Linked DNA regions of Homo sapiens. The protein of the gene in region 1 purifies or fractionates together with the protein of each later gene. This does not show direct contact. Each region holds a gene or a part of one and is shown on either strand. Other genes may lie near its edges.

Region 1 (10,241 bases):
CTCAAAAAGACAAGTTCCCTACCCCAGACCTGCCCACTAGGACTATCTGGGAATTGGCCCTTTTTACAGATTCCCAAAGAGTTTCTTCTACAGGTGGGCCCTGTCTGCTTTGACCCACACTGACACTGAACTGCTTAGGGAAAGAGGCCTGGATGTGGCCATCTGTTCTCTGTCTCCCGGTTGCTGATGGTCAGAGATTGCTAAATCTTTGGATGCTGTGTCCTGCTTGAACACGTACTAAGTTTCTGTTTTTTGGCTGGTTTCCTCTGTTTACTTCTTTGGCCTTTTTGATGACAATTCAGCCCTTCCTTTTCTTGACCCACAGGAAGAGGTCAAGAGCTATTGGCCTCCACCCTTTTGTTCCTCAGCACCAACCCAGCCCCCTTCTCCAATCTCTGCTTGGTCCTGCCTAGCAAGGAATCCCAGCACTTTGGGAGGCTGAGGCGGGGGGAATCACATGAGGTCAGGAGTTCGAGACTAGCCTGACCACCATGGTGAAACCCTGTCTCTAATAAAAATACAAAAATTAGCTGGGCCTGGTGGTGCATGCCTGTAATCCCAGCTACTCAGGAGGCTGAGGCACGAGAATCCTTTGAACCCGGGAGGCGGAAGTTGCAGTGAGCCGAGATCGAGCCATTGCACTTCAGACTGGGCGACAAGAGCGAACCTTCATCTCAAAAAAAAGAAAAAACAAAATAGTGCCCTAAGCCAGGGGTCAGGGAGAGGTTGCGCAAGAAACCAAGGAGACCCTTGGGAGCAAAAGAAAGGTGAGTGGGGGTGGAGGGTTGAAGGTCGGGCTGACTGTCTTACCTCTCTAGGTCTTGGGTGGTGCCTATGATGAGTTCATCTTTGCTCCTCGGCTGGACAATCTGCACAGCTGCTTCTGTGCCCTGCAGGTGAGGAGCCGGGGCGCCCCAGGCAGCACATAACCACCAGCAGAGGTGGTATGTTTGGGGTCGGGGGAGCTGCCTAAAGCCCCAGCAGGTTGTGAGAGAGGGCCATTGTCTACCCGCTCAGTCTGCTGGTGCTGGATGGACCAGGAGGGGGCCCTAAATGTTGCAGCCTCAGCATCGCCACCTTTGGTCTCTGCCCTTGCACTATCAGGGTGTTGAGGCAAGAAGAAGGAGGAGAAGTTGTTTCAGGCACCATGGTCTCTTGTCCTAGCCTTGCTCCTGCTGCTTTTCCTGAAGTTAACAACCTCTGCCTCAGGGAAAGGCTTTATCATCCACAAGGCAGTATCATCCACCTCCTTCTGCTTCCTACGCCACTCCCCAGGCTTAAGACCCCAGCCTTCTCCCTGTTTCTTGGGATCTCAGTCAGGTAGCCTCTCTTCCTAGTCACCTTGATATTCCCCACCTTCTCTCCACCCTAGTCAGTTCCCTTTCTTTCTCTCCTCTTGCCCTTGATCTCCCTCTGCCTTTTTCTGCCTTTCCTTCCCTGTAATCCTGTGGCTGGAGATAGGCTTTGGGCTGTAATTGAGACCAGAGCTGGACCTGGGACCTGCATCTACTTCTGCAGGCAACCAGCCAGTCATGTCACCTTGATGGAGTCTGTCACCTCTTTGAACCTCAGTCTTTTCCCTGAGGCCAATCAGTTTATGTGATGTGTGTAGCCTTTTGGCTTTCCAGGACTCTCAGCTCTTCCTCTCTGTCCTCCACATCTTCTACTGCCTTTTGCATGGGAAGGTAGAGAACAACACCCAAAGGATGGTGTCTCCTGTCCCAGTTGAAAAGGTTTCTACCTAGCTATTGATCTGGCCAAAAAAAAAAAGAAAGAAAGAAAAAAAGAGAAAAAAAAGGTCCTCACCACACCTTAAAGGTTTCTACCTATGTAGCTATTTATTTGGCAAGAAAAAAAAGGTCCCCACCACACCCTCTGCCAGGCAGTGCCCTAATTGATAAAAGTCATGGCCATGGAAGGCAGACAGGGGAATGTGCACACCCAAGGTGCTGGTGGATGGGGGAGCGTGCACACCCAAGGTGCTGGTGGGCTGAGTTCCAGCAGAAGCAGGTTGGAGATGATGCTCTCATTTCCTTCCCTGAACCAGGCCTTGATAGATTCCTGTGCAGGCCCTGGCTCCCTGGCCACAGAGCCTCACGTGCGCATGGTCACACTCTATGACAACGAAGAGGTACGTGGAGGGTTCTGGGGAGGGTCACCTCTGCGGAGTCTTCCACAGCCAACTTGTTGTGCCAGGCATCCACCGTGAGCCAGGGCTCTTCTGGGGGCCCCAAGACAGGGGAGATGCTGCCTGTGCCTCCTTAGCACTTGGTGTCTCCTCTGACTCAACATAGATCTGCTTATTCGAGGGTGACCGTCTCTCCTGTATCTCTCTTTGTGCCACATGGTGAGCTTCTTCCTTTAGGACAGGGACTCTACCCAGCCCATCCTCGTAGCCCCAGGGCTCAGCACAGAGTAGGTCCTCATGATGCCTGCGTGTGTGAGGCTGCAGTCTCAGCTGCATAACAGAGCTTGAACAGCTAGTGCTCTCTCATGTAACAACCCAGGTCAGAGTTAGCAGTTTAGGAGGGGTCCCTGCCGTCCTGAACACATGACTTCCATTTCAGGATTCAGGGTGGCCGTTCCAGCTCTGGCCATCATGTCTACACTGAGTTAGTAGGAAGGGAAGAGAGGGCAAAGGGGCAGTAGACACCCCCTGGCTTTAAGGGCATGATCCAGAAGTGACATTCATCACTGCTTACATTCCACAGAACTTAGCTGCAGGGGAGCCTGGAAATGTCATCTCTAGCTGGGTAGTTAAGTGCTTAGCTACAACTTGGGTGTTCTAAAAGATATCATGGACAGTTAGCAGTCTCTGTCATACACATAAAAGAAAATTGACCAGTGTGGTGGGGCACCTGTGCTGAGCCCCAGATGTGAGGGTCACGAGAGGAGGAAGGGGAGCAGTGCAGGAAACCCACCAGTACTGTTAAGAATGTGAGTTAGTTTGGTCTCAGCCCACTGTCTGGTGTTCAGTGACGACCCCAGGTTAGGGGTGTTGCTAAGAACACCCAGTGACTCAGTGGGGTTTTGGGCCAGTTGGGCAATGGGCCCCTCTCACTGGCTTCCAAGATCAGGCCCCTAAGCCCAGATTCCCAGAGTCAGGACTCTACTGTCGCCAGGTGGGGTCTGAGAGTGCACAGGGAGCACAGTCACTGCTGACAGAGCTGGTGCTGCGGCGGATCTCAGCCTCGTGCCAGCACCCGACAGCCTTCGAGGAAGCCATACCCAAGTCCTTCATGATCAGCGCAGACATGGCCCATGCTGTGCATCCCAACTACCTGTGAGTCTCTAGTGCCAGTCACACAGTCTTCACATAGCTGGAGACCCAAGCATAACCTGCCTTGAGGCTCTGCCTTGGCCCCAGCCTCTTCCTTTCTCCCTTCTTCATTCTGCCGGGAGGTTCACGGGCACTTCCTTTTCACTACTGCGAGACCAACTTGGTCAAAGTCATGCAATGCCTAACCCAGGTGTGTGGAATACACCTTTGTCTACAAACTTGTTTCCATCTATTGCTAGAGGCTGCCCGGAACCCTGTGTGTGGAATGACTCTGAAGTCCCACTGGGCTGGGCGGGAAAGAGTGGTGATCTATTAGTGATGTCTGCCATGGGAGGGTGGTGAGTGTCGACAGGCCTGCTCCTGTTTGCTATGTCTGGCCCTTATCTGTCTCTTACAGGGACAAGCATGAGGAGAACCACCGGCCTTTATTCCACAAGGTGAGACGTGCCATTTCTCCCTAGGGACTTGGAGGTCTGGCTGTTCCGAGCGCCGACTCATTCCCTTTGGGCCTGTCATTACCTCTGCCTCACCTTGACTCTCCCCAGGGCCCCGTGATCAAGGTGAACAGCAAGCAACGCTATGCTTCAAACGCGGTGTCAGAGGCCCTGATCCGAGAGGTGGCCAACAAAGTCAAGGTCCCCCTGCAGGTGAGGGTGGGCCCTGCCTGGGAAGGTGTGATGGAGGGAGCTTGGTGGGGGCACAAACAGATGGGCCCCCCATGAACAGGGAACCTGGTAGATGGCCTTGAGTGGAGGGGGGTCCCAGTAGAGTGAGAAAAGCAGGGATTTTGGATACAGCTGGATTCCATGCTGGCTCTGCTGCAGTGCTAGCTGTGTGACCTTGGACTAGTCTCCTAACCTTTCTGAGTCTCAGTTTCCACATCTGTAGAATAGGGGTGATAGTGATGCCTACTTTGCTGGATTTCTATGAAGACTGAAGGTACAGTGTGCTCCTGGCACATGGTAGGCCTGTCTTTCCCTGCAGCACCCCCACTTCCCCTGTGTCTCCTACACACCCTGGGGGCTTCCACAGGGAAAGTTCAGGGCTGGGGAGTATGGAACTCCAACTACTCATTTTCTCTCTTGCCTGAGAAATTAGACATCTAGTCCTTTCTCCTCAGTGTGTGTGTGTGTGTGTGTACATATATATGTTGTATACATGTATGTATATAACACATGACAGTATTGTGTATACACATATACACACATATATACTGTCATGCATTGCTTAACAACAGGGATACATTCTGGGAAATGGCATCATTAGGCAATTTTGTCATTGTGTGAGCATCATGGAGTATATGTACACAAACCTAGACGGACAGCCTGCTGCACACCTAGGTTGTGTGGTGTAGCCCATTGCTCCTAGGCTACAAACCTGTACGGCTTCTTACTGTGCTGAAAACTGTAGGTAACTGTAACAAAATGGTCAGTGTATCTAAACATAGAAAAGGTACAGAAGGCCAGGCGTGTTGGCTCACACCTGTAATCCCAGCATTTTGGGAGGCCAAGACAGGCAGATCACTTGAGGTCAGGAGTTCAAAACCAGCCTGGCCAACATGGTGAAACCCCATCCTACCAAAAAATACAAAAATTAGGCAGGCGGAGTGGTGCATGCCTGTAGTCCCAGCTACTTGGGAGGCCTTCCCTACTTGGGAAGGATCTCTTGAGCCCGGGAGGTGGACGTTGCAGTGAGCCGAGATCGTGCCATTGCACTCCAGCCTGGGCGACAGAGTGAGACCCTGTCTCCAAAAAAACAAAACCAAAAAAAAAAAAAAAAGAAAAGAAAAAGAAAAGTTACAGGAAGCATATGGTATAAAAGATTTAAAATGGTCCACCTGTATAGGGCACTTAGGAATGGAGCTTACGGCACTCGAAGTTGCCCTGGGTGAGTGGTGAGTTAATGTGAAGGCCTAGGACATTACTGTACACTATTGCAGACTTTATCAATGCCGGACACTTAGGCTACACTACATTTATTTTGAAAATTGTATTTCTTCAACAATAAATTAGTTTACTGTAACTTTTTAACTTTATTTATTTATTTATTTATTTATTTATTTTTGAGATGGAGTCTCACTCTGTCACCCAGGCTGGAGTGCAGTGGCACGATCTCGGCTCACTGCAACCTCTGCCTCCCAGGTTCAAGCGATTCTGCCTCAGCCTCCTGAATAGCTGGGATTACAGGCACGCACCACCATGCCTGGCTAATTTTTGTATTTTTAGTAGAGACGGGGTTTCACCATGTTGGTCAGGCTGGTCTCGAACTCCTGACCTTGTGATCCGCCCGCCTCGGCCTCCCAAAGTGTTGGGATTACAGGTGTGAGCCACTGCACCCGGCCAACTTTTTTACTTTATAACCTTCCATTTTTAAAATTTTTGACTCCTTTGTAACAACAGTTGGCTTAAAACACAAACACATAGTACAGCTATTCAAAAGTATTTTCTTTTTTGTATCCTTATTCTGTAAGCTTTTTTCTATTTTTAAAATTTTTCGTTATTTTTAAAATTTTTAAACTTTTTGGTTAAAAACCAAGACACAAACATACACATTAGCCTAGGCCTATACAGGGTCAGGATTATCAATGTCCCTGTCTTCCACCTCCACATCTTGTCTCACTGGAAGGTCTTCAGGGAGAGTGACATGCAGGGAGCTGCTATCTACCATGATAACAATGTGCTCCTAAAGGACCTGCCTGAGGCTGTTTTACAGTTAACTTTTTTTTTTTTTTCTAATAAGTAGGAGTACATTCTAAAATAACAGTAGGCTGGGCATCGTGGCTCATGCCTGTAATCCCAGCACTTTGGGAGGCCGAGGCGGGTGGATCACTTGAGGTCAGGAGTTCAAAACCAGCTGGCCAACATGGTGAAACCCCGTCTCTACTGAAAATACAAAAATTATCTGGGCATGGTGGTGTGCGCCTGTAATCCCAGCTACTCAGGAGGCTGAGACAGGAGAATCGCTTGAACCCAAGAGGCAGAGGTTGCAGGGAGCCAAGATGGTGCCATTGCACTCCAGCCTGGGCGACAAGAGTGAAACTCCATCTCAAAATAAATAAATAACAATAAAAAGCATAATATAGTAAACACATAAACCATAACATAGTCATTTATTATTCTTAGGTATTGCATACTGTACATAATTGCACGTGTTATGCTTTTATACGACTGGCAGTAGATTTATTTACGCCGGCATCGCCACAAACAAGTGAGTCATGCATTATGCCACAACATCGCAACAGCTGTGATGTCACTAGGCGACAGGAATTTTTCAGCTCCATTATAATCTTACGGGACCACTGTCATATGTAGTCTATCTTTGACTGAAATGTCACCATGTAGTGCATGACTGTCTATTTCTATATTTATCTGTCTACCTCTCTATATCAGGGACTCAGGCATGGGCGGTCCAGTGACAATCATAGCAGGTGTAGAACCGTGGTATCCTGACTCCCAGCCCAGGGCTCTTTCTGCTGCACAGTGTTCACTCTTCCTTTCGGAAAGCTGAATTGTTCTGCCCCCAGGAAGCCTTCTCTGAGGACGTGATATTTGAGCTGAGACCTAACCACTGAGAAATAGGCAGCTATGGGAGGGTCCCAGCCAGAGGGCACAAGTAGAAAGGCCCCAAGGGGGGCCAGGAATGAGCTCGTCTTTTAGGAGGAGAGAAAGGCAGGATGGTAGAGCCAGGATGAGAGCAGGAGAGGGTTAGGGGAGAGGCCCAGCTCAGTGATGATACAGGAATACCTAGGCCATGGAAGGACATTTCAATTTTATTCTAAGGCAGTGAGAAGACATTGGGAGATTTTTCTTTAATAATTTACAGCAGAAGTAGGACACATGTATTTTAGAAAATTAGAAAATACAGATAGAGATGAGAAAATAAAACACTAATCTGCAGAAATTTGGTATAGTCTTCCAGATTTTTTTCTATGCATAAACTTCATATACACTTTTTTAAAATGATATTATATTGGATATATTTTTGTTGCCTCTTTTCACTCAGTCATCTTCACCTTTCTATTTGAGTTTGGTTTTTTTTTTTAATGTTTTTTTAAAATTAGAAACAGGGTCTTGCTTTGTCTCCCAGGCTGGAGTGCAGTGGCATGATCATAGCTCACTGCACCCTCAAACTCCTGAGCTCAGAAGATCTTCCTGCCTCAGTCTCCCAAGTAGCTGGGACTACAGATGCATGCCACCATGCTGGCTAATTTTCTATTTTTAGTAAAAATGGGGTTCTTGCTATGTTGCCCAGGCTGGTCTTGAACTCCTGGCTTCAAGCAGTCCTCCCACCTTGGCCTCCCAAAGTGCTAGGATTACAGGCATGAGCCACCATTCCCAACCCCATTTCAGGAAATTGTTGTTTCAGTAAACTTGTACCTCATCTAATGCACAGATCACTTTCCGTTTTCCCCAGTTATCCTCAAAATATTTTTTTTACAGGTATTTGGCCCACCCTAGTATCCAACTCAGGACAATGCGTTATATTTGGCTGATATGTTGCTTAAATGTCTTCCAGTGTAGCACAGTTCCCCCCACCCCTTTTTAAATAGCATTGGCTTATTCAAGAAACTTCTGGATATGTCTCCTTGCTGCCCCATGGTGTCATTTAGCTTGTCTGTAAGCCCCGTATTTCCTATCAACTGGAATTTCTAAAGACTTGATGGATTCAAGTTAAACTTTTTTTTTTTTTTTTTTTTTTTTTTTTGACAGAGTGAGAGTTTCACTCTGTCGCCCAGGCTGGAGTCTAATGGCGTGATCTCGGCTCATTGCAACCTCCGCCTCCCTGGTTCAAGTGATCCTTCTGTCTCAGCCTCCAAAGTAGCTGGGATTACAAGTGTGCACCACGATGCCCAGCTAATTTTTGTATTTTTAGTAGAGACAGGGTTTCACCATATTGGCCAGACTGGTCTTGAACTCCTGACCTCAAGTGGTCCGCCCACCTCAGCCTCCCAAAGTGCTGGGATTACAGGTGTGAGCCACCGTGCCTAGCCTCAAGTTAAACATTTTGGGCTAGAAGACATGGCTGGTGTATTCATATGGCATCACACACATGATATCTGGGTGGGCCACCCTTAGCCTTGCAAAGATTGACCACTGGACCAGGAATGGCCTCTTATCCTTTCATTATATAGTGCTTTTCCCCTATTGACCTGACAGTGACCCATACAAGTGATGAGTTCCCTATTAACCAGATACCTAATGGTTTTAACACTTACAATAATCCTTGTCTAAATCAGTAATTTCATTAGAATTTACCGAAAAATGCCCGCTTCCCCTGAATTCTTTCAGTCTTCCATTCTTCTGTGAAGTGGAACTTCTTCCCTCCAATCAACTAGGGTTCTTTGGTTATCATGGAATATCATTCCTATTGATTGGAAAGCAGGATAAATGCTAATTCTTTCTGTTATCCACTTTTCAAGGTGAAATGTCGTCTCAAATAGTGACAAAGAAAGATTTTTCCTTTTCCTTTTTTTTTCTTTTTCTTTTTTTTTTTTTAGACAGGGTCTCGCTCTGTTGCCCAGGCTGGAGTGTAGTGTCGCAATCTCAGCTCACTGCAACCTCCTCCCCACAGGTGCAAGAGAGTCTCATACCTCAGCCACCTGAGTAGCTGGGATTACAGGCATGCACCACCATGCCCGGCTGTTTCTTGTATTTTTAATAGATACAGGGTTTCACCATGTTGGCCAGGCTGGTCTTGAACTCCTGGAATCATGTGATCTGCACACCTTGGCCTCCCAAAGTGCTGGGATTACAGGCGTGAGCCAGCACACCTGGCCTGCTTTTCCCTTTCTGACTATCTTAGAATCATGGAATTTCATTTATTCAGTGTCCTCTATAATTATTATATTTGATTTGTGAATTGCCATGGCTTTGACCAGTGGGAGCCCCTTCAGCATAACTCCTGTGCCCTTTGACTCTTGGAAGTCTCCTTGCTTTTTGGCACAACAAAAATTGTAGACATGTCTTGTTCATTTCGCCCCCCAGACTTGGTAGTTTTTGGCAAGCAGTGGTATTAGAGACCATAGCCTGGCACTGCAAGTGTTCATTGTTCTTGGGGGAGGGGACGGTGCTTTGGGTCCATTTCCATGGACATAGCAAGAAAAAAGTACATATTTTAAAAATCATGAAGCCAGGTGTGGTAGCTCAGGCCTGTAATCCCAGCACTTTGAGAGGTAGTGGATCACTTGAAGTCAGAAGTTCGAGAACAGCCTGGCCAATATGGCAAAATCTCGTCTCTACTGAAAATACAATAATTAGCTGAACGTGGTGGTGCGTGCCTGTAATCCCAGCTACTTGGGAGGCTGAGACAGGAGAATCGCTTGAACCCAGGAGGCAGAGGTTGCAGCGAGCTGAGATTGCGCCACTGCACTCCAGCCTGGGCATCGCAGGGAGACTCCATCTCAAAATAAATAAATAAAATAAAATAAAAATTTTTAAATAAAAATCATGAGTTAATACTGTAATTCTTATTCATAAAATTATTCTTATTTAGTTAAATAGTTACTACCTATTTGATTTTGTAATTCTGTTTTCTCTTACACTGAAAACCTTGATATCTAGCATCATATTTTCATTTTCTTATTTTTTTACCATAATATAAAGAAAATCATTTCAAAATGTCAGTAGCAATATTTTTAAAGACACTGATACCACTGAGTGATTTTTTTCTGTGAGTGTGGATATTAAGCAAGAGGGTGACAAGGATGGATACTTTTAAAAATCCCCCTTCCTGCTGTGTGGAGAATGGATTGGAACTAGGGTGGTGGCAATGCAGATAGAATGGGACCAATTCAGAATATATTGTCCTTTGGGGTCTGCCATTTAGCATTGGCTTTGATTTTATGCTCCGAATGGACCATCTCCCAGGCCCCTTCCCACCCTGCAATTCTAAGATGGCGTCCTCCTTGGCTCTGATAAGCACACACTGCATGTTGCTCATGGGTCTCCTGCTCTCCCTAGGA
Region 2 (11,651 bases), on another chromosome or scaffold:
TGTAAAGAAATGTGTTGTATGTTTTTATTAAATCAGTTACTTTTTTTTCCCTAAACAATTCTGCAGTGCCCAAGGTTCTGTGAGGGTATGTGAATGGACTAGTAGGGGGAAGATGTTGGAGGAGGCAGGGGTAGAAGTTGGGAGAATGGAAGAAGGATGAATGGTGAAAGTCTGTGGGTCTCTTGTTTCAAACAGAAGTTATTAGTTGTATATATTGGGGTAATAAACAAAAACATAATTTTAGAATATGTTAGATACAAATGTATCATTTTAGTAAAATGATTCCCCTTGACAAAATTTAAAAACTAGTATTTTAGATTATGAATTGCAAACTTGCAAGCAGCATTTGAAATCATGTTGATCAGTGTCCTAAACAATGTAAGAATCTCCTTTAACAGTCCTGATGATACAGTTTATTTATCCAGTATTTTAATGCTTTCTGTAATGAGAAGTTAACTAATTGTTATTATTGTGTGTTCTTTTGTTGAGCTGAATCCTGTTTCCTTTATTTTCTATTAATATACACTGACCCATGTTTTGCTTTCTGAAGCAAGGAATCAAATTTACTCCGCTATCTTTAGAGATGTAGCTTTTCATTATTTGAAGACAGGTATCATTCTTCCCCTTAGGTTTATTTGCTTCAGATGAAGTACACTTTTTTCCAACTGTTTCAAGACTTCTCACCATCCTGTTTGGCTCTTTTGGGATGCCCTTTTTATTGTTAATGTCTTACCTTGTGGCACCCAGAATCCCAGGTGTATTCCAGGTGTGAATTTCCAAGAATATAGTTAAACTATTATTTTTTCTTATTTAAACAGTATCTGTCTCTGTTAACATACCTAATAATGTATATGATTTTCTAAAGGAAGAATATTAGTTTTATAAATTTTATGGTCAATTACAATGGTAGATTTCACACATACTGATTGATAGACTGTTTTTCTATCTCATAGTAAGAGAAGGAGTTAAAGTAACAATGTTTAAATGTTTAAACTTTTTATAAATATTGAGATTTTCTTAATATGCTCTAATGAAAAAGCAGTAATTTATATGTATTTAACAGCCTGAGATGGTAATATCAGATCTTCAGCAGAGCATCTCTGACACGTTATCCATCTATTGATGTACAATTGAAGAATGTATTTTTCTTTTAATAATTAATGTTCTCAAGTATTCTACTTTAAGTATTAAAATTGCAAAAGAAAACATGCAGTAGAATATGTTTTATTGAATTGACTTTTTTGTTTTCTTTGAATACTCAGTTATTTTCATAGTATCTTTAGTGGGTTTTAAAATATGTTTCCACCTGTTTTTCCTTTTAGTTCTCACGTTTCAGAATCTGTGAACAATTCCATTTTTCATCAGATAGCAGAACAACTACAACAGCAAAACCTAGAACATCTCAGACAGCAGCTCTTGGAGCAGCAACAGCCTCAAAAGGTTTATAACCCCATCTTGTGGTCTTTAGAGTTATTACTATTTATATTCTATAAATTGGCATTTTTGTGGGTTGGCTTTTTTTTTTTTTAATTGGTCTTAATAGAATATTTTCTCAACTATTTAGCTTTTACCAGCTACTTTATTTCTTTCTAAAGTTTGTTATGGTGATATTTTTTCAACTCTTATTAGTAAGACCATTTTTTTCAGGACCTTTATGGTTTTTTCTGTAATCAAATTGTGTTCTGGTAACTTATGAATGCACATTGTAGAAATTAATTTCAGTGTACTGGAAGTAGAGAACAGGATGGAGGGGGTTTCAGAATTACCACTTAAAACTAAACGTGTTTTTCTCTCTGTTCCCTATCAAGCAAGTTGATGATTATGTTAATGGTGACAATGATGATGGCCATGTAGATTGCTATCTTTAATTTTTAAAACGTATTTGCTGTTAGCATGTAGCAGGAGCTTTATTAGGTATGTGGTAGGCTTGTATACATTTAACCCTCAGGCGATGGGCATTATGACTCCCATTTTATCCCAGAGGAAGTGGAAGCTTGGTGAGATTAAACATCTCATGCAGCAGTGTACAGCTAGTGTTATATATTATCTGACTCAAGATGTGCGGTTATTTTATGCATAGCTAAGAATTTTAAAACATCGATAACTAAATGTAACATCCTTTTGAGTTGTAAGGATCCTTTAAGTTCATCTTACGAATTTGATAATCTTTGACAAAATATTGCACCTTAGAACTGATAAAATATGTTAAGTTGTAGAGCTAGGATTAAATTTATTTCAAAGCCTTTTTCTGCTGTATGTGAGAAATGGTTACGCATGTAAACTGTTCAGAATAAAAGTATTAGGAAACCCCCTTTCCCTCCCCAGCATACATCCTAATATTAAAAAAGTTTTGGCATTAATGAGTTTAACAAAAATATCACAAAATATTTTTGAGTATGTGTTACTTGTTAGGCAAGTGTTACATACAGAGATGAACAGAAATGAGGTTGTGGCATCAGGTAACCTCTTCTCTAATGGAGCACGTACATCTGTATGAACACCTGGCAGAATTCTTTATTTTTGTCATAGAGGTACAGCTGAAGGATTCTAGGAGCATGGAGGGGGGAACAGTTATTTTAGATGGAAGAGATAGCAAACTTGAGACATTGGGGTCTGAACTTGACTTTTTAATGCAAACAGTAATATAAAATGGATGTTAATGATATTTGCTGCATTGGAACTCATGCCTAGAATTATGAGAATGGAATTTCATACCTTTTTTTTGAAGAAACAATTCTGATATAAGTGGCCAGAGTAGGGGCAGTATTTTATGTCAAGCAAATGTATCTGCCTGAGAACCCAGAAGTTGAAGATAGAACACAATTAAGAACATTTAGATGTTGTTTAAAGAAAAAACAAAGTTGTAACTCAAAACAAACAGCTCGTCAGTGATGTAATAATACAAAAATCACAGAACTGCTAAGAGAGGCAGGAGGTAGTCGTGATGGAAGAATTTATCCAAACAACAGATTTGTTGAGCTATAAATGTAACACTTTGTGAATTGCTTTAGTCATAGTTTCATTTTAGAAGGTTTAGCAGAAGCACTGTAATCGTAGTACTTTATGTTTTTAATGGTCTCTCTCTTAGCAGAATCAAGTAGTCTTAACAAGCTTGTAATTAGCACCATGTTATTGAAGTAAAAATAAACTTGAGAGAGAGCGAGTCTGTTGTAAGAATCTCACCTACCAAAAAGAGAGAACTCTGGGCTTAGTTAATTACTCTATATATCAGTTCCAAAATTTCACAGCTTAGAATAATAAGATCCCTTTGAAAGGAATAGAAGTTCTGAAAAACCTCATTGTTCAAAAATGAATCTAATGAAGAAAAGAGAGTGGTAAAACTAGAACTGTTTTTATAAGGTAGATAGTATAAAACCTATGAGAGATTTAGAATGCAGATCTCGGCTCACTGCTACCTCCGCCTCTCAGGTTCAAGCAGTTCTCTGCCTCAGCCTCCTGAGTAGCTGGGATTACAGGCATCCGCCACCGTGCCCTGCTAATTTTTCTGTATTTTCAGTAGAGACGGGTTTCACCATCTTGGCCAGGCTGGTCTTGAACTTCTCACCTCGTGATCCACCCGCCTCAGCCTCCCAAAGTACTGGGATTACTGGCGTGAGCCACTGTGCCTGGCCTGTTTTTTCTTTGTAGCATTTTTTATTAATGCCAATTATCAGTGAAAATCTAGATTCATTTAACTGACTGCCATTATGTATTTTTCATGCTATAATTTATTTATTAGTCCTCTGTAGTTTATATTTTCACAATTGAAAATTTACTTGATTTTACCATTTTAATATTTTAGTCCCTTCCTTTTATGGAGCTGTTCTCTGCTTTTATATAAAAATGAGTTTATACAAATGTTTAATTTTGGATTGATTACTTTATAAATGATTTAACATGGAATTTCTTTTATGTATGGCTCATGTTTTTAAACATGTAATTGTGATGTTTGCTGTGTTTACATTTTCATTCATAACAAAAAGTATCTCCCAATCTTTGTGTGTTTGTATATGTTCTCAATAGGCCACTCCTCAGGATAGTCAGGAAGGAACCTTTGGGTCAGAGCATTCAGCGTCACCATCACAAGGGAGTAGTCAGCAGCATTTTCTTGAACCTGAAGTCAATTTGGATGATTCCATAGATATTCAGCAACAGGTAAAAGTAAATGTTTTTCTGGGTCATAAATTTCTAAAAGTAGCTAAAGAAATCATAAAATATTTTATACTAGCAGTGCCCTGAATATATTTTTCCCACACTTAAGCTCCACTTTGTAATTGTTTCACCTATTAGGCCAAGCTTGTCCAAGGCCTAAGCATGGCCCCTAGGCCAAGCACATGGCCCAGAACTGCTTTGAATGCAGCCCAACACAAATTTGTAAACTTTCTTAAAACAATATGAGATTTGTTTTTGCGATTTTTTTTTTTTTTTAAGCTTATCAGCTGTCATTAGTGTTAGTATATTTTACGTGTGGCCAAAGACATTACTTCTTCTAATGGGGCCCAGGGAAGCCAAAAGATTGGACACCCCTGTATTAGGCATTAATGCTCCCATCGTCAATATTTTTAAAAACAGAATTGTCAATGTATAACTCTGTCTCAACCAGCCTTTCTGTTTGTTTGCTGTTCTTTTGACTTTCAAGGATATGGATATAGATGAAGGGCAAGATGGAGTGGAAGAGGAGGTCTTTGAACAAGAAGCTAAGAAAGTGGCGGTTCGCTCAAGATCAAGAACACATTCACGATCTCGTTCAAGGTTCTACAATGATATTTAATAATAGCCGTGTGTGAACTTTAAAATGTTGGCTTTATTTCTTTGCATCAGGATGAAAGGAAATGTTTCCTTGGGATGACATATTTTTTCTCAGTCTCTCGGAAAAAAAGTTATTCCAAAAACAAGATAACCTTTGTTCTGTTTTAATTGGTATATCTGTGGCTATTTATTTCAGTAATTTACATAAGATTGGCAGCCATATCATGAGACAGGGATTTTGAATTATATTTTATTTTAGTTAATATTATGATGACACCCAATTTAGAATATTGTTGCCCCTGAACAACAGTTAAGTCAGGCCATATTTCCTGGATTCCACTCATCTCACAGTGATACCAAAAATGGTTATAAAAATGAAACTACAAAATTTATTTTTATAAACATTAACTGTAATACCAAACCGTTAGGAAACAGTTTTCTTTATGAGCTTAACTTAAAGACATCAGTCTTTAACATTTTTGTATCCTATTTTTTGCGTATGAATGCCCCTGAAAATCTGAACAGTAAATGGTGTAAGAGGGGCAGTACGTTTGATGAGTTTTTCAGTCATTTCTTTTTCTTGTCACAAAGTTCTTTATATTTATCTATTGCAAATGAGAGCCTGTCAGTTCAACTTTCTCTAAACCCACCGCGTATCACTGAATTATTTTCCTGAAGCATTAACAATCTTAATGCTGAAGATATCTTCATTTGTCATTAGCAGCATCTTACTAAGCATTTTGAAGAGAGCTCAATGGCATGTGGTTGACAGGCAAAAAAGAAAGTGTTTCAGTGTCACCTTCTACAAGCACCATAAAATTTTATAAGTTGGAAACTACTAAGCAGAATTATGTAGTGGCCTAATGCTCTGACACTTAAATGGTCTTTTAATTTTCTTTGGTCTTTCATTCCTGTTCTTCTGTTTGAAAAATGAGTTGGAATGCACTAAGAGAAAGTGAGGCCCTTTCTAGAATCTTTTTCCTCTTCATTGTGAATAGTCACCCATACTCAGAATCATTGCCAACTAATATGGACCTAAGCAGCACACGGATTTAAGTAAAATGCATTTTTGAGACTTGATTTTACTTCAGAATATTTTAACATATTGTCACTAAATATAAGACAACTTTTTTGTTATTGTTTTTTCCCTCACTTAGAAGTGACAGATTTGGTAGAAAGAAAACATTGTCATTAGAAGTAAAATGAAAATTTTTTGTAGATCACCAAGAAAACGAAGGTCTAGGTCACGGTCTGGCTCTAGAAAGCGTAAACACAGAAAGCGATCACGCTCCCGCTCAAGAGAAAGAAAGAGGAAATCATCACGGTCGTATTCAAGTGAAAGGAGAGCCAGAGAAAGGGAGAAAGAACGACAGAAAAAGGGATTACCTCCAATTAGATCTAAAACACTAAGTGGTAAGTAACATATATCTGCAACGCTTTGGTTTCAATTAATATTTAAAAAATAGTTATCTGCTACAAAGTCTCTCAGCCAAATTTTATTTTCAGATTAAGGTTAAAAGTGGTTTGGTAAATGAGTAATGTCTCTGGTTTTTGTAACATGATAGAGAAGAGAAGAAGAAGGAAGAACAGATTCCATTCAAATACCAAGGTCATTGAGGGTTGATTTTTTGTTTGTTTTTCAAATGCAAGTTAGAAAATACATATTGACTGAAAAAGCAGACTAGGCTGGTATCTGTAGCATGGACACAGTGACTTCTGTCTATAGTATTCTTAGCAATTATGGCCACCAGGTCTGTAGGAATAATTATTAAAGGAAGCATATACTTAGCTATATCTAATTTTTAAAGTAATTATAATGTTAATGGGTTAGCACTACAGGATAATTCCTACTGTACAAACCTTGCACGGTTACATGTTAGTCAATTACGTATGATTAGAACAGATTCGGTAGTGGTGGGGTTTGGTTTTGGAGCAGGTGTGGGGAGGGTTCACTTGGTAGGAATGTTAAGCACAGCAAAATAAGTTTTAATTAGTGCCAAATTTTGCCTAGGGTATTCTTGGTGGGTTATGACTTTTAAGATGAACTAAGAGTTTACATATGGGCAAAGAAGTACATAAAATCGAACAAATTGTCATTCTTTCCAAAGAGCTAAACATTGATTGTGTTATCTAATTTCTGAAGACTTCCACGTAAATTCCCTCTGCCAGGGAGTTAGAAAAATAATTGGTATAATTTGTGCTACTAGAGCGTCTTGGAAACCCAGGCCTATAATAAAAGGCAATAGCCATCTTCTTACTAAGTTTTGGGAGTTCTTGTAGGCCTTGGCTATCTTGCATGAATTTTACCTGGTTGTGAGAGCTAGTGTCAACCTGATAATATTGATTATCCTTGCTCTAGAAGTTTGTTTGTCCCTTAGGGTGATGGTATACATCTAAACATTTTAGTGCTGGCTGATAAAAGAAATAATGTCAAACGTTTAACCACAAAAATCTCTACTGTGCTTTCTCGCATGATTACCATTAAGACGTTCAGAATTATCTATTTATTTGCCATTATTAGAGTAAGGATTTTATATGGAGTCGCTCTCATTTAATTTCTCACTTAATTTGTCATGTTGTTGATTTCACTGTTTACACAGTTTTTTTTTTTTTAACCATTTAATTTTCTATTTCATTTTCCTTTAAGTTCTGGGATACATGTGCTGAACGTGCAGGTTTGTTACATAGGTACACAGGTGCCATGGTGGTTTGCTGCACCCATCAACCCGTCATCTAAGTTTTTTCTTTTTTTTAAATTATACTTTAAGTTCTAGGGTACTTGTGTACAAAGTGCAGGTCTGTTACATAGGTATACATGTACTATGTTGGTTTGCTGCACACATCAACTTGTCGTTTACATTAGGTATTTCTCCTAATGCTACCCTTCCCCCAACCCCCCATCCCCCTGACAGACCCCAGTGTGTGATGCTCCCCGCCCTGTGTCCAAGTGTTCTCATTGTTCAATTCTCACCTATGAGTGAGAACATGTAGTGTTTGGTTTTCTGTCCTTGTGATAGTTTGCTGAGAATGGTAGTTTCCAGCTTCATTCATGTCCCTGCAAAGGACATGAACTCATCCTTTTTTATGGCTGCATAGTATTCCATAGTGTATATGTGCCACATTTTCTTAATCCAGTCTATCATTGATGGACATTTGGATTGGTTCCAAATCTTTGCTACTGTGAGTAGTGCCGCAGTAAATACGTGTGCTGTTTACATAGTTTTTAACTGTGGAATTTATTTTTTATTTCTGTTTTATTTTCATGGGCACAACAAACAGCAAAAAAGAAAATAAAAAGCACGTGAATAAAAAACGCATAACCAAATACAGGCATACCTTGTTTTATTGCACTTCACTCCATTGTGCTTTGAAGATACTGCCTTTTTTTTTTTTTTTTTTTTTTTAAATAGGTTGAAGGGTTGTGACCACCCTATGTTGAGTACCTCTCTTGGCACTATTTTTCCAATAGCAGGTGCCTACTTTGTCTCTATGTCAGCTTTTTTTTTTTTTTTTTTTTTGCAAAAAGTATTTTAAAATTAGGGTATGTACATTTTTGTTTTTAGACATAATGCTGTTGCACACTTAATAGGTTACAGTGTAGTGTAAACATATCTTTTGTGTGCACTGGGAAGAACAACTTATGTGCCTTAACCTTACTGTGATATCTGCTTTATTGTGGTGGTCTGGAACCAAAGTTGCAGTAGCTCCAAGGTATGCCTATACAGTGAAAAATAATCTCTGATTGTTTACCTCACAACTCTCCTTATTCAAAAGCAGTATCAATTTCCTGTGGTTTGTATTCTTTCTTAACACATTTTAAACATATGGTAGTGTTTTCATACGATTTATTGGTCTTTAGCATGGATTTTAGAACATAAGGTTTTCGTGAATAGTCTAGGGGATATAAAGCACCAGTGAATAATAACATTCCAGGAATCAAGTGTCCCTTCTGCATGGGATGACAAGAATCATTAATGCTTTCTGGGGAAAATAATGGAGTTTCCTATGGGAAAAATGTGTAGAGAGATAATATTGAAAGAGATGGGAAATACAGAACAGAGTTCAGGGAGATTAAGGCAGCTGGAATATGCAGAACCAGTAATAAAGAGGAAAAAGAGAATGCCAGGTGCAGCGGCTCACACCTGTAATCCAAGCTACTTTGGGAGGCACAGGCCAGCAGATTGTTTGAGGCCAGGAGTTTAAGACCAGCCTGAGCAACAAAGTGAGATGCCATCACTACCGCCAAAAAAAAAAAAAAAATTAGTTCGGCAAGGTGGTTCACACTTCTGTAGTCCCAGCTACTCAAGAAAGAGGTGGGAGAATCACTTGTGCCTAGGAGGTTGAGAAGCTGCAGTGGGATATGATTGTGCCACTGCACTCCAACCTGAGGAACAGAGCAAGACCCTATATCAAAACAAAACAAAACAAAAAACAGAAGAATCCTTAAGGCTGAGTATACTGGCTCAAACCTATAATCCCAGTACTTTGGAAGGCCAAGGCGGGAGGATTGCTTGAGGCCAGGAATTTGAGACCAGCCTGGGAAGAGCAAAACCATGTCTGTACTAAAAATAAAAACTTAGCCAAGCATGGTGATGGTGTGCCTATAGTTTCAGCTTTTGTGGAGGCTGAGACAGGAGGAGGCCTTAAATCCAGGGAGTAGGAGGCTGCAGTGAGCTATAATTAGGACATTGCACTCTAGCCTCAGCCTGGGTGACAGAGCAAGACCTCGTCTCCAAAAATAAAGGGGCGGGGGGATCTTTTCCATGACAGAGCCCCAGACTTCTGTTAAGGTTTTGTGGTAGATTGGATAATGGCCCCCTAAAAGGTATCTACATTTAAATCATTGGGATTTTTAAATATGTTACATTGTATGGCAAAAGGGACTTTTCAGGCCCTTTTAAATTAAAGATCATGAGGTGGGGAGATGAACCTGGATTATCCAGAAGGCCCAGTTTAATTACACGGGTACATAAGAGGGAAGCAAGTACGTTGAAGAGAAAAGGTGATGTGATAATGAAAGGAGAGAGAATTTGGGAAATGTGGAGGTGGTTTTGAAGACGAAGGACGGGACCATGAGCCAAGGAAGGCAGGCAGCTTGTAGAACCTAGCAAAGGTAAGGAAACAGATTCTCCCCTAGAGCCCTCTAGAGGGAATGCGTACCTGCTGACCCATAGTAGATCTTCAGAACTATAAGAGAATATATTTGTTTTATTCTAACTTCATGTTATTTTGTTATAGCAGCAATAAAAAACTGTTACAAGGCTAGGCATGGTGGCTTGCCTCTGTAATTCCAGCACTTTGAAATTACTTGAGACCAGGAGTTTGAGACCAGCCTGGGCAACGTGGTGAAACCACATCTCTGCTAAAGATACAACAAAAATTAGCTGAGCATGATGACGCACACCTGTAGTCCCAGTTACTCGCGAGGCTGAGGATCACTTGAGCCCGGGAGGTGAAAGTTGCAGAGAGCTGAGATCGCATCACTGCACTCCAGCCTGGGCAACAGAGTGAGACCTGTCTCAGAAACAAACAAACGAAAAACAAACCTAATGCAGAGCTCCTTGAGACTTTGGTTGAAGATTAAATTGAATATGCATAGGGTAAGACTTACAGGAGATAAACAGCTTGCAGGGAAAGAACAATGACCAGGGACTCTGTGTTAGCTAAGTGATTCCTAAAGCTTACACAGGTCTAGAAGATGTTAGAGTTCTGACTAGCCAGAGTGGAGAGACCTGGTTGAAAAGCCTAGGGCACTCAGTAGTGATCTTGCCAAGGGTACCTTCATGTGGGGCTAAATTAGCCATAGAGTAAAACCTGCCTGAAACCTGTCTTATTATAGATCAAAGGTAGCCAGAAATGTGGACATTGACATAAATCCAAATATAACATATGAAAATTCTGCAAAGGTGTCAGCTATAAATATTTTTTAAATAAATGTCTTCTGTAAAAGGAGGCATTCGTGGAGGCATGAACTGTACAGCTGAAAGTAGGCAAGGTGTCTCATGTTTAATATTTGTTAAGGGGATGTGGCTTTCAACAGTTAAGTATCTTTAAGTCTTTCAAGGGGTTAAGGGGTTCTGATTTGGCCATTTTCCCTTTGTATCTTCCCAGAAAGGATTGTTTCCTTAAGGATAAGATGCTGTTTTTAGATTTATCTCTTGATTAGGGAGACACATTCACTTAATCCTTCCAGTACAGAAAGACGCTTAAAAGGTTCACAGGCCGGGTGCGGTGGCTCACGCCTGTTATCCCAGCGCTTTGGGAGGCCGAGGCGGACAGATCATGAGGTCAGGAGATCGAGACCATCCTGGCTAACATGGTGAAACCCCGTCTCTACTAAAAATACAAAAAATTAGCCGGGTGTGGTGGCGGGCGCCTGTAGTCCTAGCTACTCGGGAGACTGAGGCAGGAGAATGGCATGAACCTGGGAGGCGGAGCTTGCAGTGAGCCGAGATTGTGCCACTGCACTCCAGCCTGGGCGACAGAGTGAGACTCCGTCTCAAAAAAATAAATAAATAAATAAAAGGTTCACAAATGGGATTACGGTGAGAAGTGGGTTTGAAACTTTGTTGCACATTAGAATCACCTAGGGAATTTTACAACTCTCAGTTCCTGTCTTTGACACTGCATGCCACTCATCCTCTTAGAATGGGACCCTGGCATCCACAGATGGTTCAGGTGTGCAGCCAAGCTTGAAAACAGGTGACATGTAAGTGGTTGACTTGGCAGAGATGTGAATTAATACTTGTGATTTTAGTTGTTTTTAAACATAACAGATGCAAGTGTTCATTGACAATTATTTTTAAATATATTATCTTAAATTTAATTATTATGTGTATTACTGCTTTTTCCTCAATTACTTTTCAAAGAAGTAACTATGTCTAAATGATTTAGGTCATTTG

The links.
Region 2: the proteins of DNPEP (region 1) and SCAF8 purify together in Homo sapiens (affinity purification with mass spectrometry; 2 studies listed by BioGRID and IntAct, with this or other methods). This does not show direct contact.

What each region holds. Positions count from the first base shown.
Region 1 is NC_000002.12:219,375,021-219,385,261, reverse strand, and holds part of DNPEP (aspartyl aminopeptidase), read left to right. Parts: intron 1-818; coding exon 819-896; intron 897-2,047; coding exon 2,048-2,131; intron 2,132-3,122; coding exon 3,123-3,283; intron 3,284-3,677; coding exon 3,678-3,717; intron 3,718-3,825; coding exon 3,826-3,927; intron 3,928-10,239; coding exon 10,240-10,241.
Region 2 is NC_000006.12:154,804,047-154,815,697, forward strand, and holds part of SCAF8 (SR-related and CTD-associated factor 8), read left to right. Parts: intron 1-1,322; coding exon 1,323-1,440; intron 1,441-4,023; coding exon 4,024-4,155; intron 4,156-4,639; coding exon 4,640-4,752; intron 4,753-5,968; coding exon 5,969-6,162; intron 6,163-11,651. UniProt on the Homo sapiens protein: Anti-terminator protein required to prevent early mRNA termination during transcription. Together with SCAF4, acts by suppressing the use of early, alternative poly(A) sites, thereby preventing the accumulation of non-functional truncated proteins.